Regions from separate parts of the Homo sapiens genome. Here region 2 is linked to region 1. Evidence: fine-mapped expression QTL. A gene starts in region 1. The other region holds a variant in brackets. All regions are shown on one strand. Distances are from middle to middle.

Region 1 (16,787 bases):
CACGCTGACAAACCTCATACCAATTACAGCATAAGAGTGTTCCATAATGCAGCAAAGAGTGCATAAAAGAAGCTGGGTTTTAAAAAAGTGTTTACCAAATTAATATGATAAGGAGATATGTCAGGATCTGAGGCATTGGCTCAAAACATAAAAACTGCCACTTTAAAAATGCAAGACTGGAACCCTTGATCCTTCCCCACACAAGAACACATACACATTTTGACCTACTCAAATTTGCCTCCCTACCACTACCTCCTTATTTTGATGTTTGAGAATAACAAAGGATCTACCTAGGAGGGAATTTATCATCACTCTGGATTACACTTCTTCTTTTTTTGTTGTTTTGTTTTGTTTTGTTTTGTATTGTTTTTTGAGACAGATTTTTGCACTTGTTGCCCAGGCTGGAGTGCAATGGCATGATCTCGACTCACCGCAACCTCCGCCTTCCAGGTTCAGGTGATTCTCCTACCTCAGCCTCCTAAGTAGCTGGGATTACAGGTGTGCACCACCATGCCCGGCTAATTTTGTATTTTTCGTAGAGATGGGGTTTCTCCATGTTGGTCAGGCTGGTCTTGAACTCCTGACCTCAGGTGATCCACCCACCTTGGCCTCCCAAAACTATTAACCATTTAGTAAGATAAACTAATATTTTGAAACAAACAAACAAAAAACCTTCTACTTATCACCTCTCAGTTGTAGTTTTGCACTTTGGATCTTGCTTTTACTTTGCTCGTGTAACTTCCCCAACTAGAATGTCTTTTGCATTCTATCAAAATCCTGTTTAAGCATTCAAATCTCAACTCAAATCCTTCCTCTTTATTCTCCTAGTGTCCCTGGCTAAACTTCTCTCTCCTTTCCCTGAACCCTCATGCCCTTACTTTCTGTACCTCCTAGAATGGCTTTATTTTATATTGCCTTTTATTATATGATTTATCCCCAAATCTGCCAGAATCTTGCACATCACAGGTGCTCAGTTCTTATATGTTGATGTATCAGTAAACACTATTGCAGCTGGTTAATTAAAATAACTGGGCTTGATGGGCTACAATTATAAAAGAGTTTTTTTGTTTGTTTGTTTGGTTTTTTTTTTGTTTTTTTTTTTTTTGTTTTTTTTTTTTCCAGGCAACTACCTCCAAACCCTTTGTGGAATCATTCTTCTCTGCCTTGGATGAAATATGGGGCAGAATACAGAGTTTTCACTCTCAGGTACTAACAAATGGTCTCCATTTTTAGGTGTAAAAAGCCCGGACCCATTACTTCCTACTGCAGCAGCTAGGCACAGCAGACCACATGGCAACATGGGCAAATCTTCACAGCAACACTCCACGAAAAACAAGAAATAAAATAAGCTAATGCAGAGCTACTTACATTCATGGAAAATACACACACACTAAAACAATAATACAAAGTTTTCCAGAACACACTGGAACAAGAAATACATATGGAACCCATTAAAATGGTTTTCCATGGGGAAGAATTGGAGTAGGGAGTGGGAACAAAAATGCATAAATATATATAACAAAAAAAGCTTTTTCGCAAATTCATGATACTAGTGTGCCATGAACTGAGGTGTATAACTGACTCAGTCCTCTCTCCTGTCCACTCACTCCCTAAGAAATGTCTGCTCCAATCTGTATTGGAGGACCTTCCAGGTCTAGACCTACCAAAGAGAGAAACTGTGGGTGGGTGAGGCGGATGCAGTCAGCTTCCATAGTATTTCCCTCTGGCTGCTCTTCTCCTCTGCTACTCACAGTGATGCCTCTGGCTCCTCCAGGGCTCGAACAGTGAAGGGAGTTGGGTCAGAAAATATCTTATTCAGCTGGGTATAGTAACGGTGTCATCTAGCAATGGTGCCCTGTATGTAGTCAGTGTCCACATGCTGACTGGCGCCTTCTATTAAGAGAAGCTCTGTGTCCACTGGGAAACCTCTGCTCCCTTCAGGTCCCTCAATGTGGACAATTCCTCCTCCAGCTGGCTGCCCACTGCCTTCCTATCTTCTACCCCTTTACTGAAACCACGTCACCCCTGCAGGGCATCCTCTTTGGCATCTTTTCAAGATGATCCACATCTTGTTGCCTTCCATGAGGTCTAAATCTGGCTCAAAAGAAGCAACCATGATCGCTGACATCCCCTTCACTCCCATCCCACGTCATGAAAATCAGGCCACTCCTGGCCGTGCTTTTGGTCAGCTCTGTCACCAAATGTCATTCCAGGCAGTCTTTTGCCTATCAGTATTTTAAGGCTAAAATGCTAGTGCCCATGCTCCCCAAGCCCATAGCAAACCCTCAAGATCTCTAGCTGTCCCTTCACTTGCCTTGAGTTGGGGCACAGTAGGGGGGATGAATGCCCTGGCACTCTCATCTGTCCTGAAGGAATTCTCTCTCTGAAATCTCTCCACTGGCCTTTAAGCCTCTCCTCACGTGCATACTAGGAGAGTGAAGGAATCAGAATCACACCATCACCCTGCAAGTCCCACACATATGGTCTGAAATTTCTCTTTAAGTGTATGTGGAAAATTAATCTTTTCTTTCTTCTCAGACTTAAGGTCTTGGCAGAAACTGAGACAAAAGAAAGAGTCCCATTTGAATACCCTGTTATACATGCAAGTTTCTGCATCTCCATCAAAACAGAAAAATAAGCATCTTTTCTAGCAGATTATTTTTTCCAAAAGCCAGACTGACTGATTTAAAGGGAGCACGAACGAAAAGCAATCACATTTTAAAACATGAATTCTGAATAAAATGTTATACTCTTCCAAGTCAAATGAGCTATAACCTATTGAAAAACTCTGAAAAGAGTTGAAAATATCTTATTTGTTATACTTAGAAAACAACTATAATAAAATTTAGGTTGTCATGAAACAGAAACCAACAAGTGTGATTCTAAATCAATCTTACATTATTAAAAAGTTACTCTAAATTTTTGTGTGAGATGATATATCAAAATAATTGTGGTAATTTTTCAGAAATATGGAAACAATAGGATATAATAAAGGGGCAATAAATGTATAATTGCATCTCTACTATAATTGCAATTGTGAGATATATTAATATATATGCATATGAACAAAGCCTTTGAAATAATGGGTAAGAGTACATATTTTTATGATGATGAGATTTGGGGTGTGGTTTTTCCTTTTAAAATTTGTAGTTCCTCCGGGAGGCCGAGTTTACGGTGAGCCGAGATCGTGCCACTGCACTCCAGCCTGGGCAACAGAGTAAGACTCCGTCTCAAAATAAAAAATAAAAAATAATAAAAAAAAATTGTAGTTCCTGTGTTGCTTTTCCCAATTAAAAATAAATAGGTAAGAAGGATTGAATGGGAGAGTGCTGTGCTGGCTTATGACAGAACTATAGAGAATATCCAGTAGACAAGATAAGTAAGGCATGCCAGTGCCCCATGATACAAGGCAGTCTGACAATGATCACTCCCGATGCCCTGCTCACTGTGCCCATTACAGCTGGCTGCATCCTGAGGGAAGAATTCACCTTGGAAGAGGCATCCCTTGACTGAGACTGCTGGAGATGGGGAGGGGGCAGCTAGAGTAGAGCTCGAGGTCTTCTCAGGCAATAGGAAAGCAAAATGAGTTTGGAGTGACAGATCAACAGGAGTGTTAGCAGGAGGCAAGGATGTGAGAAAAAGCAGGCCAGGGTGGAGGCAGCCTTAAATGGCAGGCTTGGTATTCTGCCATCCAGGCCATCCAGCAGAGAAGCAATAGTCCCAGATCTGAGTTAGAAGAACTGCAACGGGAAGAGTGTGGCGGAAGCAAACTTAATCTAGGAGTTATCTCAATTTATCCAGAAAATAACAATTTTTCTCATAAATTTTCTGACTTAAAATATCCCTTATAGAAACTGCCTCTGAAGATACATCTCACAGATTTAAACATGATTTTTGAAAGTATAAAGTGAAAGACTAAAGTTTGCCTATGCCCTAGCACCTATTGCCCAATAAATAAAAGAGCAAACAAATTTATAAATTTTGACCCAGTTGCTTTTGATCTAATGAATTTTTAAGAGAGCCAATTTAAGTTGGCTGTAGAATAATATGATAATAATTATAGTAAGTGTTTCATGAGCACTTGCTATGAGCCAGCTACCATAAGTCTTTCCTCCTTCAATACTCACAACAACCCTGTGATAGAGATTCAGTTGTTATCCCCATTTCATAGATAAGGAAACCGAATGTAGGAAGTCACTATGCCACGTTATATAACATTCCTTGGATTGAAACGCTGTGCCTCCTATTTCAAAACCATGCTCTAGCCACCACACTTCATTAGTAAATAAAGAAAAGCAGCTGCTCTTGGCAAAGAGTATAGCAGGGTTAGAGGTGATAACACTGCTCCCAGGGACGGTGATCTGACCAGACAAGAAGTGCTTCACCTCTTTACACCTCAATTTGCTTAGCAATCAATGGACTTAGTAATTGCCTCTTTGTTGGGCAAAGTGATGAGGGATAAGATCGGTTTTCCCTCCTGATCTAATTGCATAGGAGGCAGCTAAGCCATGGCAGCCCATAGGTGTGGATGGAAATCGGGGGTCACTTACAAAGTGTGGTTTGTGTTGGTGACCCAAGCTCAGCTACCTCAACTATACAATGGGCATAATAATAATAGCATCTACCTCCTAGGCTGGGAGTGAGGCTCCAATGTATTAATATATTTAATAGATTTAAAATTGTGCTTGACAAATAACATTCATTAGCTAAACATTAGCATTGTTGGTTTTAAAGGTAGGAACTTGGCTACCCGGGATCACTGTGGACATAAACATGTGTAACCTCCAAGCAGAGACAGGAGAGAAGCCCACACTCACCATAGCCTCCTCTCCGCAAGCTAAGATTAGTTTGGCAGATTTGTTAGCTATAATCTTGGCCAATGAAAGCAGAACTCAGAGGAGATATGACAGCGATGGAGAAATAGGTGTCAAGAAATAATAATAGCTCCTAATTTTTATCATTTCTATGGTCAAGTACTACATTAAGAGTATGCCGGCTTGGTCTTATCTAATCCTCACAGTTCTCTGAGTAAGCATTATTAACTGTATCCCTCATCTGGGACTATACTTCCATCTCCGTAAAGTGACAACAGTGAGGGATGAGGATTTTTTCCTGGGCAATCGGATCCCAGAGCACACACTCCTAAGCTCTGCCCTCACTGTGTGCATCTCCAGGGTCTGTCACCTAGCACAGATGTCAAGGCGGGTTGTCAATAAGGTGTGGGGTTGGGAGGGCCAGAGGCTGAGATACATGAAAATTACATCACAGTTTATACAAGGGTTTGTAGAAATATTATAAGCTCCAAATACTTTGATTTGCCTTGTTTAAAATTATATTTAAGGCCTCAGTCCACAAGTTTCAATGGTACTTCATGAGAAATTCAAGTAAAGGCTACTGGCACAAGCACTTTTGAAAACACAAAACAAGGCATCTTTTTCCCTCAGCTTAGAAAGGACAGAGGTAAGAGAATATTTACCTACTAGTTGTATACAGTTTAGGCTCAGTCTATAGTAGTTATTCTTTTTTTTTTTTTGAGACAGAGTCCTGCTCTGTTGCCCAGGCTGGCATGATCTTGGCGGCCCACTGCAACCTCTGCCTCCAGGGTTAAAGAGATTTTCCTGCCTCAGCCTCCTCAGTAGTTGGGACTACAGGCATGCACCACCACGCCCGGCTGATTTTTGTATTTTTAGTAGAGATGGGGTTTCACTGTGTTGGCCACGCTGGTCTCGAATTCCTGACCTCAGGTTATCCACGCACCTCGGCCTCCCAAAGTGCTGGGATTACAGGCATGAGCCACCACGCCGGCCTATTCTTTTTTCTTTTTAATGGAACGCTTCACAGATTTGCATGTCATCCTTGAGCAGGGGCCACGCTAATCTTCTCTGTATCGGTCCAATATTAGTATATGTGCTTCCAAAGCGAGCATTATCTGTACTTATTCTTTATATTTATTTCTATCTTAGAGACAATTGAATTTCTCAGATCCCTTTCTAAAAAACAAGATTATGAAATTCCTGTAATAGAGGTTTATTTTCATAATTATCTTCCATGTAAGATAACTGTAACCTTGCAACGCTATTTTTATTATAGAAATTTACACATGTTGGAATGTTGTGAAGAACTGTGTTGGGCTCCTCAAAATTGTAAAGTATGCCACAGAAGGTTGGATTTGCTCATAAACTTTATGATAACTAATGTGCTAACTGTATAGATTATTATAATCAACACAAAATATCAAATCTGTGAACTCTCTTTTTACATTAAGAAAATAGCTGAAATCCTTTCCTCCTTGCAGAATTTTTTTAATAGAATACATAAATAATTAAAACTCTTATCTGAAAACACTGCAACATTCCCTCTGTTTCTTGCACAAGCCTGGAGTTCATCTCTAATATGGAATAAAGTGACTGTCCTGTTGATTTCACAGAGATGTCAGGAGCAAAAGAGGTCATGGAACAGACTGGCGCTTTGTAAACAGCATAGGGGTAAACAAACCTAAGGGGATATGATTGGCTGTAGAAGACACGCAGCATGTTGTGTGCAAGATTAATATTTCCCGTTGTTCTGATACTTGGTTGTGAACCAAGAAATCCTGTGTAAGTCACAGCACATTCCTATATCACAACTGAGCAATGTGGAAAGAATACTGGGCAGTTAGTCAAATAGCCTGTTTCTATGTTTCTAGTCCCAGAAAGGACTGGATTTATCTCCATACTCCTTCCAACGACTAAAATCCTGACTTAGCCCAACTCTTAGAACTAGAAGGAACCTAAAAGGTAATGTAGTGTCTGAATCTGTCTCCAAATGTGGAACCCTGTGCAATTCCCTTTACCCTCCTCGTGAAGGGGCATTTATTAGGTGCTCAATCATATATGTTGACTAACTGATGCCCTAGACCTCCCATTCCTTATCCATAAAAGTAAAAATGGGGGCGAGGCATGATGGCTCATTCCTGTAATCGCAGCATTTGGGGAGGCTGAAGTGGGAGAATTGCTTAAGGCCAGGAGTTCAAGATCAGTCTGGACAACATAGCTAGACCTCATCTCTATTAAAAAAAAAATTAAATATTTCAAAAATAAGAATGGGTGAGATGATCCTGAAGTAATTTGCAAGTTTAAACGTTCAGGATTTGAATGCATTCAAAAATGCTATCAAAGTGGAAATGGAAGTCTAAGGAGATTGGTTATTTGTGAGGCTGTAGGTAGGTCATTTGGAGGGAAAAACCCAGGCCATCCTAATCCCAGATAGCCTTAGAATTTCATTCTCTACTGGTTTGCCCTCATCCATCCCTTCCTCCCTCTTTGTGACTTTCCTTCTTAATTCTAAATGTAAGTCTGCTTAGAAATTTCTCCTTTGCACCAAATGTGGATTATTTGTAAATCCACTAGGGAATTGATTGTGGTTGGTGAAATGCTTTTAAAAACTGAAATTATTGGCTGGGTACAGTAGTTCACACCTGTAATCCCAGCACTTTAAGAGGCCAAGGTGGGCAGATCACCTGAGGTCAGGAGTTGGAGACAGCCTGGCCAACATGGTGAAACCTCGTCTGTACTAAAAATACAAAAATTAGCCGGGCATGGTGGCACACGTCTGTAATCCCAGGTACTTGGTTGGCTGAGGCAGGAGAATCACTTGAACCCGGGAGGCAGAGGTTGCAGTGAGCTGAGATTGCACCACCGCACTCCAGCCTGAGAGACAGAGCAAGACTCAGCCTCGAAAAACAAAAACCTCTAATTATTTTTAAACCTAAATAAATATATATATCACCAATAAGCTTGGAGCACTTTATAGGTTTTTTGAACAGTGGATACTCTCAGCACATAGCTCTAGATAGAGGTGACTAGGGAAAATAATCATATCTCACTTTCCAGAGAGCAAAAACCATGGCCCCGTGGTGTCTGCTTCACACCAAGCTGAATTCCCTTACAAAGAAGATGTGGAGCAGAGCTGAAAACCAACCCAGGAGAATGTGTGTCTTTGAACGAAATCATCTCCAAATGCCCTGGGAAGTGCTTGCAGGCTTTGTTTGTGCTGCCCCAGAAGGGAGACTTTTCACAAAGGAACTGTTTTTCAAAGAACAACAAGCCCTGCTATTTTAAACTTGGGGGTGGGAGATTGTATCTGGACCGTTTACACAAGTGAGTGCTGGCTGACTGACATCTAACCCCAGTGTTTGCTGGCTCCAGCTTTCCAAGTAAAGCAAAGAGAGGGACTTGCTTCTGATACGTCTTGAAGCCACAGCAGATGAGTTGTCCAGCAATATTTGAATTTTACAACATGAGCAGAAAACCCTGCTTAGAAATCCTAAACAAGGACAGGCTGGTGATGTTTATCACCCGAGTGGCCTTGGGAATTAAAGGGATGTCAGAAAGTCATGGAGGACACTTCCCGAGGCTTCAGCACAGTCAGCAAACACAGGACTTAGTGCATGCTAACCCAGTGCTCTGTGTGCGTGTGCATGCGTGTGGGTGCATATGCGTGTGTGTGTGCGTGTGTGTCCCTATTATTGCTACAGGACAGTGCTGCATGATTCTAAGAGTCAGACTACCTGAGCTGAAAACTCTGCTCTACATTAGCTGGCCTCATAAGCTCTCCAAGCTGCAGCATCCTCATCTGTACAGCAGGGACAGCAACACTGGTACCTGCACCCTGGAAGGCTATTGCCAGTGATCGGATGGGCTGACACAGAGTGCCACGCGGGCCATTGCTGCTGCTAGGACTGTTTACCCCCAGAGGTACAATGAACCCCCCACCAAACATGAAGGTGCCTCTGACCCTTCCAAGTCCAATAAACTGCTGACTGTTAGGCTTAAAAGAATAAAACAACAACAACAAATTGTCCACCAGAACGCTTCCAATGCTTCCTACAATAACATGAGTTCAGAAATTCATAAAGAGAAGCAGCCAGCTGTGGTCAGTGAGACAGGACAGGAAAAAGTGAGCCCTTATGGAGGTATAGTTCCCCCAAAAGGACTATTCTTTCAAAAATACAACCCTAAATCTTTCCAGGAAACCAAAACACAGCCAAGCCTGCTCAGTAGGGGGGAAGAATCACATTTCCCCTTTCCTGACCAGAGGTTTAAAACTAACTAGAAACACTGCAATGACGGCCAGTAGCCAGTTAGCACTTAAAAAAAAAATTTTCCATGTTTAGAGTCTGAAAAATAGGGGATCAAAACAGTACAGCATTCAAAGAGGAGACAAAAGAGAAAAAGTTACCAGCTACCTCTTGGGTCTTTCAAAGACTGCAGTGTCATCCCTGTAAAAGAGTGAGGTACTCACCTTTCTATAAGAATGAAGGACTCATCACCTTAAGCACTGAATTCTGAGAAAGCCTAGGCTCCTGAGGTCCCAGCCCAGATTTCCTTACAACGCAGCCAAATGGCTTTTCAGAGTTCAGTTCTGCCGGGTGGGGGAAGGGAAAGGGGAGCAACAAAATTCCCGCAAGTCTTACCACCACTGTTTTAAAAAGAAATAAAGAAGAGTCACTAACCTTGCCTCCTGTCCGGGAAGCGAACCGGGCCTGGCTGAGGCTGTCTCCCATAGCAAAGCGCCCCAAAGTTAAGGAGCTGAGCCACCACGGAAAGGTTTGCAAGCCAGCTCCTCTGGGCACATGGCATGATTCAGATGTTGAGGAGAAGAAAAGTCAAAAAAGTTTTAGCCCTCAGCTCCAGAAATAAAGCGCTCGCCTGTGGCCCAGCAGGAAGATGCAGGGGTGCATGGTCAGGCGCGAGAAGGCAGCGACTGCAAAGCTGCCCGCGATCTCCCTGTGCTTTTTTAAGCAGAAAGGAGCTAGACACCTTTTTCCCCTCCCTCCTCCTAAAAGGGGAGTGATTCAGCTGACAGTGTCCGCTTTCGGCGGGGTGTGGAATGGGCCAGAGCGGGAGGGCGCAGCCCACCCCGGTCCCCACCCCTCCGCCTCCCGCATGCCCCGCGGCCTCGCAGCCCGCCCGCTCGGTGCATCTTCCTCCCGGACTCCCACCCCCGCGCTCCTCCGGCCCCGCCCCGAACGCCAGGCCCAGCTGGCCGAGCCGGCCAAATAGGGGAGACCCGGGAGAGCCGCCCTGGGAGGCACTGGAGGAAGCTGCGAGTGAGAGGCCCCCAGGCCAGCCCCCCGGCGTGCTTAAATACAAGCTCAAAATGAGGAGAACAGAGTTGAGGCAGAGGGGGGCCCCACTCCCTCCATCCTTCCGCGCTCAGCGCTGCCCCCTCCCCTGCTGTTCTCCTCCAAGTTCCTGAACTTTTCCCAACATCGCTCTATCAAGACTCCTCACCCACTCGGACCGCTCTGGGATTCTCTTCCACTGGAAAAACTAATAGGCGATTTTTCTCTTTGCCAAGTCACACAAAGGGAAATGGGCTGCGCTAATCTGCTAATGTGACCTCAGACAAGCCCCCTCAGCTGTGCAATGAGGTGACTGCTGCAAATGCCTGTGGGCCCCTCTGAGTCTGCAGATCTCTGTGCGGCTCTTCTGATTCTAGAACCCCATCTTTCCTAGCCCACCTCCATTCACTCAAAAGGAAACCAGGAATTAAGTCAACCCAGGAAGGTGTTAAGGTATCTCCCCAGTTTCCCTGAACTGGCTACCCTGGAGAGGGCGTCCATTCATTCAGAGGCTCAAGCTTTTACATCGGTCAGAGAATGCCACAATCCAGGACGCTTGCCAGGCATCTTGAGAATTTACTGGGCTAATCCAGCCAAGATTTTTCACCTCTGAGCTGAAACAGGCCTCCTTACTCCATTCAGGAAGAATTCGGCCCCCAATATTGACTTTTCCCTGGCTGCCAGCCAACCACATGTGTTAATCAAGAGTTCTGGGATACCAGCTTACTCAACCTTGTATAGGGACAGAGCCTCCAAGGCAAACTCAGTGGTCTGAAAGCAAGGTGGTCCTCTCAGATGTGGAACACATGGGCACCAAGACTTTGAGAGGTATATGCTAGTTTCCTATTTTTGGTGTTACAAGTTACCATAAATTCAGTGGCTTGAAACAACTCAAATTTCTTATGTGACAGTTCTGATCTGAAACTGGTCTCACTGGGCTAAAATCAAGGAGTTAGCACAGCTGCATTCATTTCTGAAGACTCTAGGGGAGAATCTGTTGTCTTGCCTTTTCCAACTTCTAGAGGCTGCCTGAATTCCTCAGCTCATGGCCCTCTTCCCCCATCAAAGCTAGCAATGGCCCTTTGAGTCTTTCTCACATCACATCACTCTTCTTCCTCCCTTTTCCACTTATAAGGACCCTTGCGATTACATTAGACTCATCCTGGTTAACCAGGACACTCTCCTAATCAGCTGATTAGCAACCTTAATTCCATCTGCAACCTTAAATCCCCTTTACGTGTAACAGAACATGTTTTGTTGTCACAAGCAAGTAAAAGAACTACTCTGAGCCTTTTTTCTGTTACGTAAACATTAGGAAGCAGGATCACAACTGGAGTTAAAAGACATTCAGATAACACAGGCATGATGACCTGCATTTGCAAGGGCATTGAAGAACAACTTTGGGCTAGAATTCTTTTTGCTTCTTTTCTTTTCTTCCTCTTCCCCTTCTTCTTTGCTTCCCTTCACCCTTTCCTTGTTTCTCTCTCCTCCTTGTACTCTTCTGTCACTCTTCTTCTTCCACCTTTTTTTCTCCTGCTGCTCCTTTTAATAGCAAGCAAGATCTTGTCCAAAGGGCAAGATCACTCCTAGCTCCCAGGTCCTGGAGAAGAGATTTGTCTCTCAGGCAGAAACCTGAAGAACTCTGGAGAACTGCTGAGTTCCACCAATATCAGGGATGATACACTGAACACTCTGGCTTCACAGTTTAGCCTCTTCAACTCTAATGGCATTTCCCTTATTCTTTCTCCCATCTACTCTCAAGACCATAACCAGGAATATCTATTATCCATAAGTCAACCAAGACTGAAATATTAAAATTATAAAATCCCACCAACACTTTGTATTCTGCCAGCCCTTCCAAACCTTTATACCCAGTACCTCGGATCTTCAGCCTAGTAGGAACTTCTAGTTCCTTGATCTCCCCATCTTTGGTTTTCTAATAATCAGCATCTCTCTGGACTCACCACCTTTTTTGCCCAGTCATACCCTTTGATCCACCTCCTTAAACCAGTACATTCAACATCTCATATCTTCCTCATCAAAATCTAACTCTGTTTTACCCTAGCTGCTGATTTTCTCTGCTCTCTGTTTCCAAGTGCTGTTGAAAAAACTCACATAATTGCATCTAATTGTGCAACTATCAATTCATGTCTCCAACTTTAGCACGTTCTCAACATGACTTAGCACAAATATACATTCTGCTACTATTCTAACGTTCCTCCTACTCTTTCCAGAATTTACAAAAATCTCTCCAAAGCTTGGAGTTACCTCAGCGTAGAGAGACTTAATCCTCCTCAACTTTGCTTCTGCTTAATGAGAAAAGGTAACAAATCCCCTTGGTGACCAAGGTTGGTAGCAATAAAAAAGCCAACTACCTCTCCTGCCCACTGTAGATAGCAGAACTGTGAATCACTGCATAGTATCCAAACTACCTCTGAGCTTATACAAACATGCTGCCCTTGAGGAAACACTACAAAACCATGCAAGATTCCAGAGTTGAATGATAGCTAAGAATAGCAAGCATTTATTACATGCTGACTATATGCTTGGCTCTGTGCTAAAGACTATATGGGTATTGCTTTACTTAAACTTCATAAAAAACTTATTATGTGGGTACCATTAGTATCTTCATTTTATAGATGAGGAAACAGACACTGAAAGGTTAAGTAACTTGCCTAGGATTAAGTGGCTGTGAAAGTAAAATCAGGATGAAGCACTAAAGTTCAGAGAAGTTAAAAGATGTAGCAAAACCACTAAGTCAATTCAAATATAGGTCTGTTTTACTTCAGGCCCCTAGTAATGTCCTCATCCACAAAGAGTGAAGAGGATTAGAACACTGACATATAGACATCATCAGAATGCCTTGGGTGGTAGTTTAGTTCATTATAGTATTTTTCCATGTAAAAATGCAATTTGTGACCCAAGATCTAAGATACCTCACAAAGAGCTCCCTCTGTTTCATTAGCAAATAAGGCATAAAAAATGTTCATACTTTCCTAATAAACCGTTAGGATCACAAGGGATGGCTGAAGTTCAAGGAAAATTAGCTTAATGCATCTTTCGGAGCTGTCATTAGCATTGGAAAGACAAAAAATAAATTGACAGTGGCCCAAAAAACCCTGAGTTGGACCTAAGAATCACAAATGAATATGCCACAAAAAGAGACTTTACATCTGTTAATTCTGCCTAAACACCACAATCATCATCTCACAGCAATAATCATTGTGTTGAACATTACAGTTTTTAAGGTGTTTCTCCCAAGCAGGTCAAAGGGTAGAAGGGAGAAAAATCTTCATCTGACGTTTTCAAGAGTAGTTAGACCTTAATTCCACCTGAAACTCAAAAAGTAGTGACTTCAAACATCATATTTAAATACTGTTGCCACATGTATTATTTTCTTTTAAATCTTTCTGCAACCAGATCTCACAAGAATTCTCTCAAGTTACTGAGACCACGAAAGTCTCTTTTTTTTAACTCCACTTCCAACTTTGCTGTAAGTTTGAGATTGCTTCTAAATTTTATTAAACTATCAAATGTCTTAGTCTGTTCTCATTCTTTATAACAATTGAAAGCTTGGTAGAGATGCTGTAGAATTTTTTGGAAATTAGGGAGGCCTATAATGACACATTTATCTATTATATTCTGGAACTTAGCCAACTAAATGCCAATGTATGGTAGTTTTTGGTGCAACTGGGCAAAAGTGTCCAAGCTGATAGCTGTGGCTCTTACCATTATCATACTGGTGTTATATTGGTCCTGAACCACATGGACACTATCCCTTTTCTTTCATTCAACCTTAAAGATTAAATCTGAGTTGAAGAATAGCGTGCCCATTTTTTCCCATAGACAGGAAGAAATTAAGGATGAAATGTATCAGGGACAATTTCAGTACTACCCATTTAGCAAAAAGAAAATACTCTATTTATTCAACAAATATTATTGACTGTCTACTATGTCTAGGCACTGGGAATGGAGCAGTGAATAAAATAGAGTCTCTTTTCTCATACATGCATGCATACACTCTAGTGTGAGCTTGTGGGAGGTAGAAAATAAGCAAGTAAATATAGAATATGTGCTACAGTGATAAATGCAATGGATAACAATAAGCAGGCTAAGGAGAACAGGGAGTGATTGAGGGGGGTAGGTTACAATTTTATATGAGGGGGTCAAGAGTGGTCTCTCTAATAAGATGATATTAGCAGCAACCTGAAGCAAGTAAGAACCTGAGCAAAATAGATATCTAGGAGAAGAATATTCCAGGCTGAGAAAACAGTAATAGAAAAGACCTTCCATTGGGAATATGTAGAAACATGCTTAGAGAGCCCAAGAAAAGCAAGGAGTTTGGCATGGCTGGAGTGTGTGGACAAGAGTAGAATGATGGTAGAAGTGGGGAGGTTGTGTATGTTCTTAGAGACCATAGTGAGAACTCTGAAACCCTGAGGAAGTTAAGAAGCACTGGGGATTCTGAATAGAGGAGTGACAAGAACTGACTTAGGAGTTAAAAGGATCTCTTTGGGTGCTGGGTTGAGAATGACTGCAGAGAGATAAACGCAGATGCACAGAGAGCAGTTAGGAGGTTGTTGGATTAACCCAAGTAAGAGGAAATGGTGGATTAGATCAAGTGGTAGCAAAAGACAGGGAGAATTAATCAGATTCTGGATTTATTCTGAAGGTAGACCCAACAGGATTTTCTGATTATTTGGATGTGTGGCACGAGGGAAAGCAAGAAATCACACATGACTAAAAGGTTTAGCATTGCCAGTAATTAAGATGGGGAAGATGGGAGGTTTGAGACATGTTTAGATGTCTCTTAGATATCCAAATGGAAATGTCAAGTAGATTGTTGGATATACGAGACTGAGTTTCACATAGAAGTCCAGGTTGGAAGTATCCATTTGGAAGTCATAGTAGTTACATGGATGAGAGTACCTGTGAGTGAATTCAGTAGACAAGAAAGTAGACATGGGGACTAAACTCTGAGGTACTGCAATATTTAGAATTACAGGAAATAAAGAGAAATCACTAAAGACCAAGGAGTGAGCAATGAGGCAAGAGGAGACCCAAGACAGCATATTATCTTTGAAATCAAGTGAGAAAGGAGCCGTTATTCAATAGCTCAAACTGGAGTAAGAGCTGGAAAGGAGTCCTGGCTCTTCATACTAAGCTGCATGGAAGACAAAAATGGAAGAGTGACACCAAAGACTGAGTCTGATCAGTTAAGAAAAATAACTCCACATACCAATAAATGCAGTGTGATCGACGTCCTTGAAATCTGTCCAGATTAGAAATTCCCTCATGGAGAGTGTTGTCAGGAAGAGATGAGTGTACCAAGGAACATCCACAGTCCTAGTTTACCCCATTCTTTATGTTCTCTTAACTCACTGAGTTCAACCAGAAGCCTAAGAGAGCCTGGAGTGTGCCTCTCCTACTCAGAGCGGGAGACCAGCTGAGGGTCAGGGAGTTCTACTGTGATCTGAGAGGGCCACTGCCTCTATTTTTCACTGCTCTTTGGTATCCTCCTGGGATCACCGAGAGGAAGACATCAGCTGTGCCCTCAAGAAAGTTTGAAGTGAGTAAATGAGATTAGTTCAGGTAGCAGTAACAATATACAGTCATGTGTCACTTAATGGAGATGCTCTATGTAAAATGTGTCTGTAAGTTATTTTCATCATTGACAATGATGAAGTCACCTAACAACTTATAGAAACCTAGATGGTATAGTCTACTGCACACCTGGGATACATGATATGAACTATGACTCTTAGTCTACAAACCTATATAGCATGTTACTGTACTGAATACTGTAAGCAATTGTAACACAATGGGAAGTATTTGTGTATCTGAACATATCTAAATATAGAAAAAGTACAGTTAAAATACAGTATAAAAGATAGAATGTGGCACACCATTATAGAGCAACTCCATTATAATCTAAGGAGACCAGTCATATATGCAGTCCATTGTTGACCAAGTTGTCGTTATCAGTGAATAACTGTATCATACTGGTACCCACTCTTTTTTTTCAGCTTCATTGAGGTATAATTTAACATAGGATAAGCCGAACATATTTAAAGTGCACACTTTTATAAATATTGAGATGAATATACCTGTTAAATAATCATCACAATAAATTTTGACATATATGTACCAGAAACTTTCTCCTGCCCCTTTGTAATCCCATTCTCCCATGTCTCACCAACCACAGATAGCCACTGTTCTGTTGTCTGTTACTGTAGATGGGTTTTCATTTTCTACAATTTTATGTAGAGTCTACAGTATGCACTCACTTTTGTCTGCCTTCTTTAACTTGGCATACTCACTTGAGATCTGTGGATATTGTGTGCCAATACATTGGTCCTTTTTATTTCTGAGTTGTATTCTATTGTATAGATATATCACAATGGGTCTATTCATTCACCTCCTCACTAAATATCTATTGACCATTAGAAAAATTATGGAGGGAAAACGTGGTCAAGGACACCTAGCCTAGAAGCAAGCAGATGCATGCATACCACTATTCATGTTAAAGATCTTTTCCTGGAGTTGAGGAAGCAAGGACCCCAAGTGCTCCAACAACTGCATGTCAATGGACAGTACATATTTCTCCTCAAGATAAAATGATTTTGGGCCAGATGCAGTGACTCACATCTGTCATTCCAGCACTTTGGGAGGCTGAAACAGA
Region 2 (16,787 bases), 65 kb before region 1:
GAACTTTAGTGGAAACTGCCTTGCACTAGAATTAGAAGAATCAGGTTTGGTTATCAATTCATTCATACCTGCAATTTATCATTTAGTCAGTCAAGAAATATTTATGATTCCACAGAATGGAATTCTCCTCACCCTCTTCATTCTTCCCTCTCTAAACCCTGAATACTCAAGGGTCTCAAGTTCCTGCCTTTTCCATTAAACATCCTAATAGGAGTTCTTTATATTGTTATTATGGAAAATACCAAACATTACAAAAATAGAATGGTATAATGAACCTCCATGTACTCCTCACCCATTTTCAGCAATGATCAATTCTTGGACAATCTCATTTAATCTATACCCACCCACTTCCCCCAAACCACATCCTGGATTATTTTGTGGCAAATTCCAGACAGCAGATAATGTCATCAGAAAATATTTGAGTATGTATCTCCAAAAACACAGATTCTCTTTTAAAAAAAAATACAACTACAATGCTCTTTTCACGCCTAAAGAAATTAGCCATAATTCTTTAATTTATCAAATAGTCAGTCAGTATTCAGATGTCCCTGATCATCTCATTTTTTAAAATATGTGACTTTTTCTCCACCTTTCTCTTTTCCATTTAACATTATATCATGTAAATCTTTCCATAGTAGAATATAGAGATACTTAAAAGATCCTTTTCATATAAATAGAGCATTGAGGTTTTATCATGTGAAAAGAGAGCAAGGTATGGATTTATTTGTCTTTTTAAAAATAAATGTTACTGTGTACATTTGAGGTTTACAACATAGGATATATGTAGACAGCAAAATAAATCTGTGGTGAAGCAGTTTAACATATCTATCATCTCACATAGTTACTTTGTTGTGACAAGAGCAGGTAAAATCTACTTATTTTCTACAACAAAAATCCCTAATATTATATAATTTTATTAATTTTAGTACTCATGTTACATTAGATCTCTAAACTATTTTATATATATCTTATATATTTGCTGTTTTCATCCTTTGACCTACAGGTCCATATTTCCTCTCCCCCATCCCCCTGATGACCACTGTTTCATTCTCTGGGTATACAAGCTCTTTCTTAAAAATATGCCACATATAAGTGACATCATGCAATTATTTTTCTTTCTGTGTCTAGCTTAACTTAGCATAATGTCCTAATGGCAGGATCTCCTTCTTTTTTAAGACTGAATTGTATTCCATATATACACATTTCCTTTATCCATTTGTCTGTTTATAGATACTTAAGTTTTTTCCATATTGGCTATTGTGAGTAATGCTGTAATTCACATGAGTGTAGATCTATGTATGAGGTGGTGATTTCCTCTCTTTGGGGTATACTCAGAGGAGGGATTGCTGGGTCACATGTTAGTTCTATTTTTAATTTCTTTAGGAATCTCCATATTGTTTTCCATTGTTTTCCATAATGGCTGTACCAATCTACATTTCCACCAATGGTGTACTAGGGTACCCTTTGCTCCACACCCTCACCAACGTTGGTTATCTCTTGTCTTTTTGGTAATAGCCAAACTTACCAGTGTGAGGTGATATCTCATAGTGATTTTAATTTGCATTTCCTTGATGATTAGTGATGTTCAGTACTTTTTCATATAACTGTTAGTTATTTGTATGTCTTCTATTAAGAAATATCTATTCAAGTCCTTTTCTTATTTTTTAATCAAATTATTTTGTTTTCTGCTATTGAGTTGTAAGAATTTTTAAATAAATTTTAGATATTAACCTCTTATCAGTTATATAGTTTACAAATTTTTTTCCCAGTATGTAGGTTGCCTTTTCATTTTGTTGATTGTTTCCTTTGCTGTGCAAAGCTTTGTACTTTGATGTGGTCCTATTTATTTATTTTTGCTTTTGTAGCCTGAGCTTTTGGTGTGATATCCAAAAAAAGTCATTGCCAAGGCCAATGTTCAAGGAGCATTTTCCTTATGTTATCTTCCATGAGTTTTATGGTTTTAAGTTTTACATTTAGATCTTTTAACCATTTGAATTTTTTGTATGATGTAAAATCAAATTTCATTATTTTGTCAGTGGAAATCTAGTTTTCTCAGCATCATTTATTTAAGAGACTATTCTTTTTTCATTGTGTCCTCTTGATGCCCTTGTTAAAAATTAGTTGGTTAGGATTTATTTCTAGGCACTCTGATTTGTTCCATTGGTCTATGTTTCTGTTTTTATGCCAGTATCATACTGTTTTGATTACTGTAGCTTTGTACTATAATTTTAAATTTCGACATGTGATGCCTCCAACTTTGTTTATCTTTCTCGGTTTTGCTTTAGCTATTTGCAGTTTGTTTTTGTTTTTGTTTTTGTTTTTTGCATGGTTCTATACAAATTTTAGGATTCTTTTTCTAGTTCTGTGAAGAACACCATTGAAATTTTCATAGGAATTGTGTTAAGTCTGTGTATTACTTTGGGAAGCATGGACATTATAAACGATCCACTCAGAAGAATCTGAGATACCCAAACACTTCCTGTAGTAAGGACTAAGGAGCCATCTCATCTGGGGGCCATCAGTGATGGACTTCCTACCTCAACCTAGATGAGAAGGACAAAGAGGCAGTAAAAGGAAAGAGGCAGGAGACCAAGGAAAGAAGCAGCTCACAGTACCCATGGGGAGCTAAAAGTTGGCCATCTCGGAAGGGAAAAGGAATATTCTCCATCCTCTTGCTGCCATTTTGTATTTGTGATTATCTGGTAACAATTGGTTTCTTTTCTGCTGTTGAAGGACACATGCAAGCCCTTCTAGGTATTGTTGGGCATGGTGAGTGGCTGACATTTATTTAGGAGTCTCTGGAACTGGCTAACTGTGGCCTTGGAAAAATCACTTTATTTCTCCAGGTTTCAGCTGTGCCACCTGTAAATAGGGACTGGGTTATATAATTTCAAATGTTCCTTCAAATTCTAGCACTGTTTAGATGTTTTCAATCAAAAATTGAAATCACAGAATTATTTGGGAGCAATCAAAGTAAAATACTAGGATTTTGCTCTTTGCAGGGGGAATTTTATCTTTGAAATGAAGAGCAACAGATTTAAATTAAACATAAAGCAAACTGCCAACAATAATCAAGTTGTTATCATGTTGGAATATGTTAAAAGCACCACCTGCATTATTTGCTTTTAAGTATGCTTTTGCATTTCCTATCCTGGACCTCTTAGAAGAACTTTATACAGATCTTTTAACATATGTTTATTAGACTATGAGTGGCATTTGCACAACATCTAAAGACAACTGATAAACAGTTTATTGGTAGAGGAGATAATAAACTGTTCTGTAGCCAGTAGAACTGAAGTCGGTTTTGACTGAGAGAAGAAATTTCTGTTTGATTATGGAGTTGGGTTTTTTAATTACTAAACTATATATTGCTATAGCTTAATATATAAAAAAAAATTTGGAAAATATAGATCAGGAGAATAATCTCATGCGATCCTATTCACAATAACAAAGACATAGACAACCTAAATGCCCATCAATGATAGACTAGATAAGAAAATGTGGTGCATATGCACCATAGAATATTATGCAGCATGAAAAAGAACAAGATCATGTCCTTTGCAAGGACATGGATGGAGCTGGAGGCTGTTATCCTTAGCAAAGTAATGCATGAACAGAAAACCAAATACGGCATGTTCTCACCTATGAGTGGGAGCTAAATGATGAAAACACATGGACACATAGAGGAAAACAACATACACTGCGGCCTTTCAGAGGGTGGAGTGTGAGAGGAGGGAGAGGATCAGGAAAAATAACTAATGGGTACTACCCTTAATACCTGGGTCGTGAAATAATTTGTACAACAAACCTTCATGACACAAGTCTACCTGTGTAACAAACCTGCACTTGTACCACAGAACCTAAAAGTTAAAATAATAACAATCATCATCATCATCTCACATGATCATAACACCAGTAATGACCATTAATGACATTCTTATAGTTTTACTACATTTATATCTATAATCATTATAATGTAAAATTTTGAGTCATATCATGTATTGCTTTTCATATTTAGCAATCTTATGAATTCCTTTATTTACTTTCAAATAATCTTCCCAAGTACTGGGAGTGACTGCATAATTTTCCACTGTATGAAGATACGCCAATTGTTGGGCATTTCTCTATTTTTTGGCATTTAGTTTGTTTCCAATTTATGTATTTCGTTATTATAGCCAATACTGTTGTAATCATCCCAGTCACTGATTTATAGTGGATATACTGGAAATAAAATCCTAGAAATGAAATTATAATGTTTTAGGTCATACAAATTTTTATTTTGATCTGCATTAAGAAATTGCCCTCTGAACACTCTTGTCACGATCTTTTCCAACCAGCAGTACGTGACTGAGGCATCTCCCCACTCTCTAAGTACTCGTTGTTAGCTTTAACATAATTGAAATATATAAGGCAACACATTTTACTTACAATTTTAAATTTAAAAAAATCATTCCTGTTGCTTAGCTACTCCAAGTCACATTTTTATCAAATACATGAAGCTACTTCCCTTCTCTAGCTGTGAACTTGCTATACAGATGTTAATTACCCAACATCACCCTTTCAATCCTCTTAATGAAAGGTTTTCAGTATAATAATGTTTCTCTGCCAACCAAGTCACTGATTACTACATTCCAGCTCTTCATTTAGAACTGATGAATTTTAGATTTCCTGAAACTGTCTACCTTCTGTCTAGACTAAAATAGTAAAACTTACTCTTCCACGTGTTTAATCAAGATTTAGGCATCTTCAAGTCACATTCTGTTTTGTTTTTACAAATGTCCTCTATAATATTGTTTATGAAAAATAACTACTATATTTTTCCCTCACTCCTGGTCTCCTCTCTATCCTTGGAATCTACAACTTATCACCATGGAATATTCCATGTTCCACAATTGAGAGATCCTATTTCTCCCTTCCATGCTGGGGAAATGCCTTAAATCCTGATTTCTTTTATTTTAATGCCTTGAAAATGAAAAGCCACATGATGCTCCATTTGGTCTCTAACACTGAGTAGAAAATTCACTTCTGAAAGCTCTCTAAGTGGCCAACCTCACCCTGGGGACGTATAATTGCCCACTTGGACACAGAGCATGCAAGCACAGCCCTGGGAGGAAGACTTTAGTTCTGGCTTTAGTTCTGTGATCTCATTCACTTTTTATTGGGCCTCAGTTTCCTCATCTGCAAATGAGGAAATTGGGTTATATTTTCTATAAGACCTCTTTAATCTCCATGGTGTTCTCCAAAAGTTCCTTAATTACCAATAAAAAGTGAACTTATAGACATCAAGTGTTTTTCAACTTATCACCTGCAAATGGCTGGTGGGTTGCAGCAAAATTTAAAAGAATCCTCAAATCCATGTGCACATATATATTTTCTTGGTCCACAAATTAAAAGATACTATGATTATTACTATTATCATGCAGGAGATCTGCAAAATTAATTGGTATTTAAAAGGAGTACTCTTCTTACTAAAAAATTTAAATAAAAAATAAAATCATGATTCTAAAGAAAAATAAAAAACATCATTGCACAGCTCAAGAAAAATATAGGCCGGGAATGGTGGCTCACGCCTGTAATCCCAGCACTTTGGGGGGCCAAGGTGGGAGGATTGCTTGAGGCCAGGAGTTCAAGATCAGCCTGGCAACTTGGCAAGACTCCAACTCTACAAATAGAAGAATTAAAAAATTAGCCAGATGTGATGGTGCACACCATAGTCCCAGCTACTTGGGAGGCTGAGGTGGGAGGATCCTTGGAGCCCGGCAGCTTGAGGCTGCAGTGAGCTATGATCACACCACTTCACTCCAACCTGGGTGACAGAGGAAGACCCCATTTCTAAAAAAAAAAAAAAAAGAAAGAAAAAGAAAAGAAATACAAAAAATACAAAGCCCTCCTTTGGACTGCCCATAATATTGACTGCATTATCTATTCTGATACTTAATTATACACAACTGAGAGCTTTTCTCCCTGGGTGGCAAGCTCAATTGCCTTCAGGGCCAAACTGGTAACATGAATGAGTGAAGCACACTGGCTGTTATTCTTTCAAAATTGGCACATGCTTTATACTTAGAAGCAGGAATGATCTTCACTTTCACAACGAATTATGCCTTCTCCCGTCTTTGTCACACATTTAACACCCTAGGCATATCTTTTGTTATCCTCTCTTTTTTATGTAGTTATTCACAAGAGAAACAACATCCTTCAACCACTAGCAAACAAGGTACAAATATAATGATCAATGGTGACTACCACATGTTGGTCTTAGTGTCAGAAAAAAAGAGAGGTAGTGGTGGGAGCTACAGTGAGTAGACGGGACTCACCCTGTAGGGAGGGGAGACTCAGCCCCCAGTGACTCTGGCCCAGCTGGCATAAAAGCCTATTGCTATAACATTTTCTGCCTTTTTTTTTTTTAAGAAGAAGAAACTTCACATGTTTAGGTGGAAACTCCTGATATTTACCTGTCAGTTTTGGCTTATTTTCAATATTATGGAATCCAAATAAAATATGTTGTATGTCTTCGTTAATCCGTTTCAGAATGACCCTTGAGATTCCTTCAATGAGAAAAAATTATCTGATTGAGACAGGGGTCTCGTTTTTAGAATAAAAAATAGGGTGAATTGGGGCAGAGAAGGAAGAGTGTGAAGAAAAATAATTGATGAATATGTTGGTTAATTGGACTGTGGTGATCATTATGCTATGCATACATGTATCAAATCATGTTATACACCTTGAATATATACAATTTTTACTGGTCAGTTATATACCCCAATAAAGCTTGTTGAAAAAGAAAAAAGTTTTAAATTGTTAAAGAGTCCCAAGCATATCATGGTCATGAGCCAACTCACTCACTGAGGAAAACCTCTTTCTTCTCAATAATAATAGATCATAACAAGCACTAAGATATCCTAAGAACTAAATCCCAGATACTGGGCTAGGGCTTTATATGGTTAATTTTACTTCACCTCAAGGTCACACAGCTTGAGCCTGACCCAGGACTCAACCCTAGACTTCTATGCTACCTTCCCGTGAAGCCACCTGCCAGAAGACGGGAACAGAAAGGGGGGACTTACGGGTTTGCAGCAGCCCCAGTGAAGAGCTGTGGGCCTCGAATGCCCTTGAAGGTAGGTTCCCTTCTATATTAAAAGATCATTTGGTCAGTTCATTTTTAGAAGAGGACATTGCCCCCAGGTTTACATTTTTGTAGGCTTCAATGGAGCAAGTTAGTCCATATAAAAATAAAAAACAAATGAGCAATCATAACATAATCATACCTAAAGAATAGATTCCTCCACTCTAAGTCACTGTCTTCATCCAGACCAGGAGTGTAAAGCAAAAAAGAGAGGGCTGTGCTGGTTGCCTGAGAAGAGGAGCCTGTCAGCTGTGCTAATGAGTGGCTGTCTAGGGGCAGGCCATCAGTTCAGGAGTACAAGTGAGGAAGAAAGGCTCGTGACAGTGTTGCAGCAGAGACTGCCTCAGTGTTCACCTTCCCATTTCCTCTTTCTGGTCACACAAGAAAACTTCCCAGCATCCCTTGCTCTGTAAAGTTACACAGTTAAGGCTAGGATGATACTTCCCAATCTGGCCCCTAAAATCTCCTAGAAGACTCTCAGCTCATACTTTGATAGCTTTTCAGCAGAATGGGAAGTGAGGGACTCTAACACTGCAAAAGCCACATGATGAAGGAGTTTGGATTCCTGAGCTACCACTGGAAGGAGAGTTATTTCTTGGAG[G/A]GGAGCCATCCCACTAGAGATGCTGACCCAGACTGTGCTATCGTGTGAATGAGAAATAAAATTTGATATTAGCCACTAAGATTTGGCAGCTGTGTGTTAAAAGTAGCTAGCAAGCACATCCTAATAGAGTTCCCGGGAAAACTACAGCGGTTTCACCCATGCTTATGCAAAGATCCAGTTTGCAAAATCATTTCTGCTCTGCAAAGAGCTTACTATTAAGAAGGTCTCTTTGTGGAGGTGGCTCCACAAAGCATGCTGAAAATCCCTTATATGTATGAAGAGTCAAGTCATCTACTGAAATTCCAGACAAATCTTCCTGACCATATCCAAGAACACAGAGTACGTGCAAGTTTCCAGGATTCTGGTGATATCAATGAATGTGCTGTGGGCTCAAACTTTTTAGAGAGGAAAACTGAGCTGGATATATCATGTCATTAGATGAGAGATTTAGTCAGTGGCCAAAGCTGGATGAGTGTAAGTAAGAGCTGCATGAATGTTGCAGAAACTCTGGCAAAGAGGAAAATTTGTACATTCAGGATTTGTGTTGCAGATGCTACACAAACCCAAAAGGAACTAAAGGGCAAAAAGCATATGAGTCTCTTAACTAATTGCATAAAACTATTTGATCAAGGTAGTGCTTTAAAATTTTATGTGATCAGAATTGTTTTTGTTTTTGCAAAGAAAGATCAGGTAATTTCCAGTGATAATTCTAAAATGTATGGTTTTTGCTTTGCAAATCGATAGAGGAAGAAGCAATAATCCATTATACAAAAACTCTCTGGAAGTGGGAGAGAAAGTAAGACCAAACGGCAAGCAATTCTTTCCAAATGAGTTTTGGTTCAACTCCTCCGTGGAGACCTTGCTAGCAGTATTCTTGTCATGTGGTTCCTCAGTTATGTAACCAGAAGAGAGTATCTCCAAACTAGAATCAAGTTTGGTCTAGATGCTGTGGCTGCACCAGCTCACCTCTGCAAATTGAATTTAGAAAACTCCACACTGGAACAGATCTCTACCTTGCCATAGTTGAACAGGCGGTACACATCATTTGACTTCGTTATGTGAACTGCAGTTAGGAGGTGTTAAAAAAAGAAGTCCTCTTAAAAACAGGGAAGATGAAACTACATCACCTCTATACTCCTAGATGATTTGTTGGTGAGAAGAGTTAGGGACATTTCTAAGGGAAGTCAAGAAATAAATTGTTTTCTCTACTTCTCTTTGAAAATTTTATATTCAATTTATGCATCTTGATGTGGTCTACAATAGTGTGCTTAGCAAAGAACTTTTCTTCCTCAGCTATGGAACTTAAACTTATAAAAATGATAGTCTGCTCAGTGAGGGCAAATGATTAGCTGCCCACCTAACTCACCCATTAAAAAAAATGTTAATAAAAAATAGTAATATTAATACTAGCAAATTTGGAAAAGTGTATATGCAAAGGTTTAAGTATTGGTAATTCAATTTGCATATACATATGTATGCATACATGTATGTATGAATGTATGAATATATGTATGAACTCATGTATATGCATGAATATATATATGCTTTTAAGTCTGTTTGAAAACAGAAATATGTTTATGTATGTGTATGTGTGTGTGTGTGTATATATATATATATATATAATTTTGAGTTTAATTCTTTGAAAACATAGAAATATTCTTGATGAAAATGTGTACCACTGCCCATTATTGGCTATTTAACAAATAACCTAAATTAATAATGAAGCTAAACTAATAGCAATTTATAATGAAAAACAAGTACCAAATAAACAATAAGCACTAAAACAAGTATCAAATAAAAATAAACAGTTAAGTACTACCTTGATGGTAAACTTCTGTCCCCAAACTGCAGAACTGCAGCCATCTATGTGTTTGGATGGTAGTGAGACCTCAGCTACATTGCCAGGCATTACGGGGAGAATGGGCTTCTTAGTAAAATACCAAATTGGAGTCTATAATAAGCTTTAGTCATGTACTGACTTTATGAATACTAAAATTTAATGACCCTTAATAAGTCACGTAATTGTTTCCTATTAAATAGCTCTCAGTTCATCCACAAAAATTAATGTCTATGGAATGATGTGTCTCATTCACCGCATAAAGACCTGGTCCCTTTCTCAGCCCATTAGGGGTCTGCTCAAGGCTGACAGATGGGCTTGGGGAAGCACTTTCAGAATTGACCCTGAAAGAAAGCAGAGTTTTCTCCAGCTGGGCAGAGGGACACAAGTCGGTGATGGGAAACAGAAGAGGATCTGATGTGTCACCACTGGGTTGAAGATGAAGGAGGGTCACATAGCAAGAAATGCAGTTAGTCTCTAAAAGTCGATGGTGTCACTGGTTTATCACTCAAAGAAACAGGGGCTTCAGTCCTACAGCTGCAAAGAACTGAGCTTAGAAACGGACTTCTCCCCACAGTCTCTAGAGAACTCAGCCCGTTAATACCTTCATTTCAGTCTGTGCTGCCCTAAGCCAAGAACCCAGTCATGCTGTGCCAGATTTCTGGCCTACGGAATTGTAAGCTAATAAACAGGTATTGTTCCAAACTTTCTAAGTTTGTGGTAGCTTATTATGCAGCAATAGAAAGCTATTACCTCAGCAAATTTCCTTTATCCCCACTTCCCTGTCTTACTCACCCATTAAAAAAACATGTTAATAAAAAAATAGTAACCACTCTGTTGTGCTTTGACATGTATCCTCGCATTTGGATATGTCCTTGGAGAAAACAAAATAGATAGATAGATAGATAGATAGATAGATAGATAGATAGATAGATAGATAGAATGTTTTTGTTTGCTAATGTAGTTTATTTTATATCAATAGTATTGTGTCATAAATACTATGCTATTTATTATCTTATAAAAAAACTCAAATATACCTTGTTACCATCTATCCATTTGCTGTGGGCATATCTAGTGGGTTCCTTCTAACTGCTACAAAATATTCCATAGTGTGTATTTGCTGTTTTTCTTTATGCATTTTACTAAGTTGACCTTCAGTTCCTTTACCAAAATCAGCACTGTGATCATTTCCTCATAATCCTATCTAAGAATTCCTCCAGGGCATATACCCAGGAATGGGATGGTTGGGTCACAGGACATATGACCACTTAATTTGGAATGCACTCTCAGACTTCTGTCTCAAATGGTCACACCAGGCTACTCCCCTGGCAGTGCAAGAGGTCCTGTTTTCTATATCTGCCAAGATTTGACATTACCAACTTCTGAGACTTTGTCAATCTCCCAGGTATAAAGTAACATCAAGTGCTTTTAATTTGTATTTTTCTGAATCACTGAGTTCGAGTATCACTTCATATATTTATTAAGCAATTCAGTTTCCCCTTTTGTAAACTGCCTTCTCATGTGCTTTTGTCAATTTTTCTACCAGATCTCCCATCTTCTTATTTATTTCCAGAATGTCCTCTATCTTTTAGACACCAAACTCTTCAGGTATCTCTTACTGTTATATCTTTCTGTTAACTCAGAAATGCTTAATTTTATATAATCATATTTCTCAATGTTTTGCTATATAATCTGTGTTTTATTTGGATCTTTATTAAGAAATATGTTCCTACCACTAAGTCACTAAAATATTATCCTACATTTTCTTTTGTTGGCTTCACACTTTTACCTTTCACGTTTCAGTCCTTAATCCACCTAGGGTCCATATTTGTATGAGACCCTCTAGTTTTATTTTTCTCCATATTATAAGCCAGTTTTTCTAACACCATCTGCTCAACAATCCACCCTAGGCAGAGGTAAGATGAGAAATATGTATGTGGTTGGGAAGCCAACATGATCCCACTGTACTGTGGCAGAGGGTATGATGCAGTGACTCAGGATCTTGTTGGTGGAGAAGGGGTAAAGGGAGGGCTCTGTCGCAGTAGATTCTGCCCTGAACATCCTCTTTCGCCCCTGTGTTGCAGTTACTAATCCTTGATTTATCTTTTCCTATTGAAAACTGGAATCCCTCTCCACTTGGGATGGGGAGTGGGAGGGAAAGGGTCATGCTGCTATTTGCCTTGTCAGCCCTGGTAACACTAGCAACGGGCATACACACCATACTGCTCTGAATGAGATCCACTCCAGCACATGGCCATCTTAAAACCTCTTTCATCACGTAATTGATACAGTTCAATGAGACAAACAGATGGCACCTTTCGTCAGGCTACTTGCATGCCAATAATGGGAAAAGAACCCATTCAGAGACTCATACTCATGAGCTGTGCTCCTCCCCAAGCTGGCGTTCCTGAATGTAACATGAAGGAAGATGCTCAGGCTGCTGCAGGACTTGGCCTTAGAGACGGGGCATCCTAACCTGCCTTACTAGCAAAGCTTCATCCAGATATGACCTTTCACTGCATACTCTATTTTTTCCCTGTGTGCTTGGATTTAATTCTTAATAGTACTTTGAGTTGCTGTTTTATTATTGCATACTTTAAACTCACTACTCTTCTTTCCATCCTTCTTCTCTTCTCACCAGCCAGGACCTTCCCTCCCCACCTTTCCAAAGCAGCACACAGCTAGCTGCCTGCTATGACTTCAACTTCAAATTCAGCCTGGAAGTTAAGAAATGATTTCCCAAGAACTGCATAGAAGGAGGATCTGACCATTGGCCTTTGTGCTGCCCCCTGCCTTCTTCAACCCCCTTGGGTCTTAATAATTAATTCCTCCTGAGGCATGTTGTTCCATGGGCCTCTCTGTTCCCCTGAACTCATTCCCTGGAAACAATTCCCCTACACATCTAAGAGCAGATTTCACTTAACTAAGCAGCTGTGGTCGGAAAGTACAAATTCTCCTTTAAAAATGGCCCTTTCCAGTCCCACTCTAATGTTGACCAGCTTTCCTCAATTCCCAAAGAATTCACCCGCTTCATACTGAGAAATCCATCTGGCCCCAGTCCTTTTCCATCTGAGGCAATCAGCCTCAGTGACATTCAGAGAGCCCTTTCCATAACTCTCTTGGTCTAGCCCATACCTACCTCTAACTCAATAAAATGTTAGAACCCTGAGCCCTAACATATGAAGAAAGGGAGGCCAGACAGCCCAAACTGGAAGACAGGTCAGTGGCTTTGATATAAATCAAAGCTAGGATCTCAAATTTGAAATGAGGTAGACATTTCTAGCTATGCTGTGGGCATGAGGCTCTGATGGATTAAAGAAGAAATGATGGGACAACTTTGGAGAAATAAAGGATCCATGAAGTTGGAAGACCTCAGTTAAATGGTCCAATAAGGGCTCTGGAGAGCCATTGTACCACCCAGATCCCTTCAGAAGATAGAGGGAAGAGGTGATATGAGGAGAAAAATGGCAAAAAGGAGGTAAGACAACTGGAATATAAACTTGATCGATATCACAATTTGATATAAGACTAGCTCAATTACATGATTAGAAGTATATTCACAAGAGAAGATAGTCAGAAAATGGTCAGCCTACCAAGAAAGCAGCCAATTGATATAAAACACAGAAGTGTCTGGGGACGAGAGGTCCTAACAACTTTAAAGCCACTTGCTAAAGAATTCTGTCTTGGCCGGGCATAGTGACTCACGCCTGTAATCCCAGCACTTTGGGAGTCCAAGGCTGGAGGATCGCTTGAGCTCAGGAGTTCAAGAGCAGCCTGGGCAACTTATCAAGACACTGTCTCTATTAAAAATTGAAAAAAAATTAGCCAAGAGTGGTGGCGCACACCTGTAGTCTCAGCTACTTGGGAGGCTGAGATGGGAGTGCTGTTTGAGCCCAGGAGGTCAAGGCTGCAGTGAGCCATGATTACACCACCGCACTCCAGCCTAGGCAACACAGCAAAACTCTGTCTGTATATATATAGCTTTCATTTATATTGCTTCCACTTATATCAGTATATGTATATACTGATATAGACAGTGTCTTACTGGATATATACATAAGTTAAACATATATATTAATTTTAAAAAGAATTCTTTCTTATTTTCAGTTTCTGCAAAAGAAGCCCATACTAAAACAGTAGCATGATTTGATGCTTTTGGTTCCTGATTTAATTCCATTTTCAAAATGATCTCCTTCATGGCTATGCTACAAACAGACTCTTAATTTATGGAGAACACACACAAAAACACACACACATAGCTCCATATGATACACCAGAAGAATGGTTAAAACAATTGAAATAACAATAGGCAAAAACAATAGAGAATATTTACTATGTAAGGCATATTTACTATGACATTCTTTTAAGCATGCTACAGATATTAACTCATTGAAGCCACATCCTATGAACTGCTACAATTTATATCCCTTATTAAAGATGAGGTCAGTGAGGCATATAGAGATTGAATATCTTGTCCGAGATTATACAATGGAAAGATGACAGAACTAGAATTCCAGTCCATGCATTCTGCTTCCAGACTCCACCACTAAAACCACTCTACTATACTGTCTCTTAAAGGATGGTGAGTTACCTGCCTAGCAAAAATAAACAATGATCTTAAGTGTTGCTATCCTGTGAAAGTTTCTGCACAAATTAGCCCAAATAGTAGTCTGGCTTCTGAAGGCAAATATTTTGCTTGACTTACTGCATTTTGAGAACTAATAGCAGGTGCGTTGTAGGTTCCAACTGAAGAGTCCTGCTTCCATCTTCCAGCTGGTCCTCCTTCTAGATGATTCATTACTCCCCAAATCACATGATTGTAACAAGCTTAATCCACATTCACTGTGCTGCTTAATTACCAATAGAATAATAGCTGAAATTAAGCAGACTGCTTAATCACCTTCTTTTTATTCTGGCTGCTTTTTTATGATTATTATCCCTCCTGCCTTCACAGGTAACAAAATATATTGCCATGATAAATGACCAGCTCTCCAAGATGAAAGCTCCAGGTGGCAGAGACAGTCATGAAAGCCCTGCTCTATGGCCGAGGCCACTGCAGAAGCTAGAAGTGGGGAGGTCCTCTCAAGGACTCCTGACGCCTAGAAAGCATTCTGCCAGGAATGACAAAACAAACAGTTACAATTAGGAGACAGGATTCACAGGGTCCCTGCAAGGTAGCTGGTACCAAGCACAGCCCCTTCTCTTCTGAAGAATGCAGTGATTTCTGCAGCTTTCAGGTTCACACTTCAAGTGATCACCAAGACTGTCGTTCATGAACCATTGCTGAAACTATCTGATAGATTCACACGAAAAGGTGTGAACAGTATCTGCAGTTTGATTTCCAAAGAAAAACCTGGGATTGTATGGGAGGATATATAAGTTGGTGATTGAAATAATTAGATAGGAAGGGGGTCTTTTATTCATTCCCAAGTTGTGCCCCTGACTCCTTGTGTGAGATTCATCGAAGTCCACAAGCTTACTATGCTTCAGTTTCCTCATTTGTACTGTATGAACAGGTTCTACCTATTTGCTTTGCAATGAGAACAACCCAATAAATAACTGAACATTTTGTGAGGAAAAAAAAACCCTTTGGATATGGGCACAGTACATCTACTTAAAGTCACTATATGAAAACTGAAAATAATCATTGTAATTGGAATAGTCTCAAGCACAAAATTGAATTCCCTCTTCTTGTACTCAGATTTAAATCGAGTTCCATTCAACAAATGTGCAAGTAAATGTGTTAGACATTAAAGACTCAGCAAAACGTGTACAATTTCTACCATCTGGCAATGCGCATGCTCAGAGAGAGAATTTCCACCAGGCACTAGCGGGGTGGTGGTGTTTTCCCTTGATGCGGCTTGGTTTGGGGACAATAATGCAATGTTGCTTTATTTGAAAGGATGGTTACAAAGAGCTGGATTTCCCCTTCTTTAACTATAACCCATACTTTGCTTCCATTTATATCAGTATAAATATAAGGTCCATTCCCTCGGACTCTCACATATGCACTAAAGACAGCCGTGGGAGGTAGAAACCAGACTGAACAATTGGCCTGAAATCAAATGGCCTGAAATCAAAAAGTGAAGGGGAAAAAAGCCACTTGCTTATTCCTCTATCTTTAACTTTTTAAATTCAGTCAATATCATCTCTCTTGTTCACATAGATTCCAGGGAAGCTTTTGTTTCTCTCTAGTCATTGATCTTCCAGAAGTACAATAGCTATAAATAAGTCACCATGAAATAAAAGCAAAACTTGTGAGTCACTGCTGCCATTTTTTCCTAAGAACACATGGGAATTAGTGTGAGATGATGATCATGAATAACTATGGTGATGATGTGAAGGCAGAGGGAAGAAATAAAATTTCTGTTCAAAGAAACCATGTTCCAGTAAGTTCCAAGTACACCTCCAACTGCATAACAGTATTTGCTTTTTTAGTTTGTATGTACCCATTGGCCTCATTGGACTTAAGCTCAAGGGACCAAGCTCTGACAAGCATTTCTGTATCTGTGACTGGGAAGCCACACAGCAAGGAAACACGAGGTCATAATCATTGCAACATGAATTCTCACAGCTGCCTCTTCAGGGGAGCTCAGGGACTTTGTCATTTATATCAGCTCTCTTTTCTTTTCAGAGACAAAGAGTGGTTCACTTTCACCTTTCAAGGACCAGTCCTAAGTCTTTACATCTCTTCAAAAACCTCCCTAGAACAAGTTAGCTAAAATATCTCAAACTGTATAATTCACACATAAAAGGTACATTTGACTGTATCTGTTAGAAATTAAGTACCTTACAATGGAGAGTAGATTCAACCAAGGAAGAAAAAAAGTTTTCTCTACAATGCTCTACACCTGCAAACTCTCTCTCAAAAACCGTCCAAGCTTTTGTGAATGGTTAAACTGATGATGGCACAGCCATTCAATGAAATCTTCTGTAGCTAGAAAAATTAATTCACAAAAAAATTCATGACTCGGGAAATGATTACAATAAAATATTAAATAAAAAACAGGATTCAAAGCTAAATACATAAAATGATGTAAATTATTAACTACATGCATAGGAAAAAATGGGGCTACATTAGTTTGCTAGCACTGTCATAGGAAGGTACCACAGAGTGGCTTAATCAACAAAAATTTATTTTCTCACAGTTTTGGAGGCTGGAAATCCAAGATCAAAGTGTAGGCAAGGTTAGTTCCTTTGGAGGGCTTCTGAGGAAGAATCTG

Which allele goes with the higher level. Positions count from the first base shown, and alleles are read on the strand shown. Sizes are in standard deviations (SD) of each study's normalised expression.
As copies of A replace G in region 2, the expression in adrenal gland of the gene that starts at base 9,754 in region 1 goes up (large effect, 1.0 SD a copy in GTEx).

What was found.
Region 2: its variant is fine-mapped to the expression of ADAMTS12 in adrenal gland (GTEx, PIP above 0.99).

Annotation. Positions count from the first base shown.
Region 1 is chr5:33,882,237-33,899,023 of GRCh38, forward strand. It overlaps ADAMTS12 (ADAM metallopeptidase with thrombospondin type 1 motif 12), which reads right to left and starts at 9,754. Exons shown (of 24, transcript NM_030955.4): 1 at 9,494-9,754. The coding sequence starts at 9,620. It also overlaps the pseudogene RNU6-923P. RefSeq lists enhancers at 9,036-9,537, 9,538-10,037.
Region 2 is chr5:33,817,258-33,834,044 of GRCh38, forward strand. The region is part of intron 2 of ADAMTS12 (ADAM metallopeptidase with thrombospondin type 1 motif 12); the gene reads right to left. Among named protein-coding and RNA genes, the nearest start is that of ADAMTS12, 66 kb to the right of the region's middle. The variant G/A (reference allele first, on the strand shown) is at 7,728.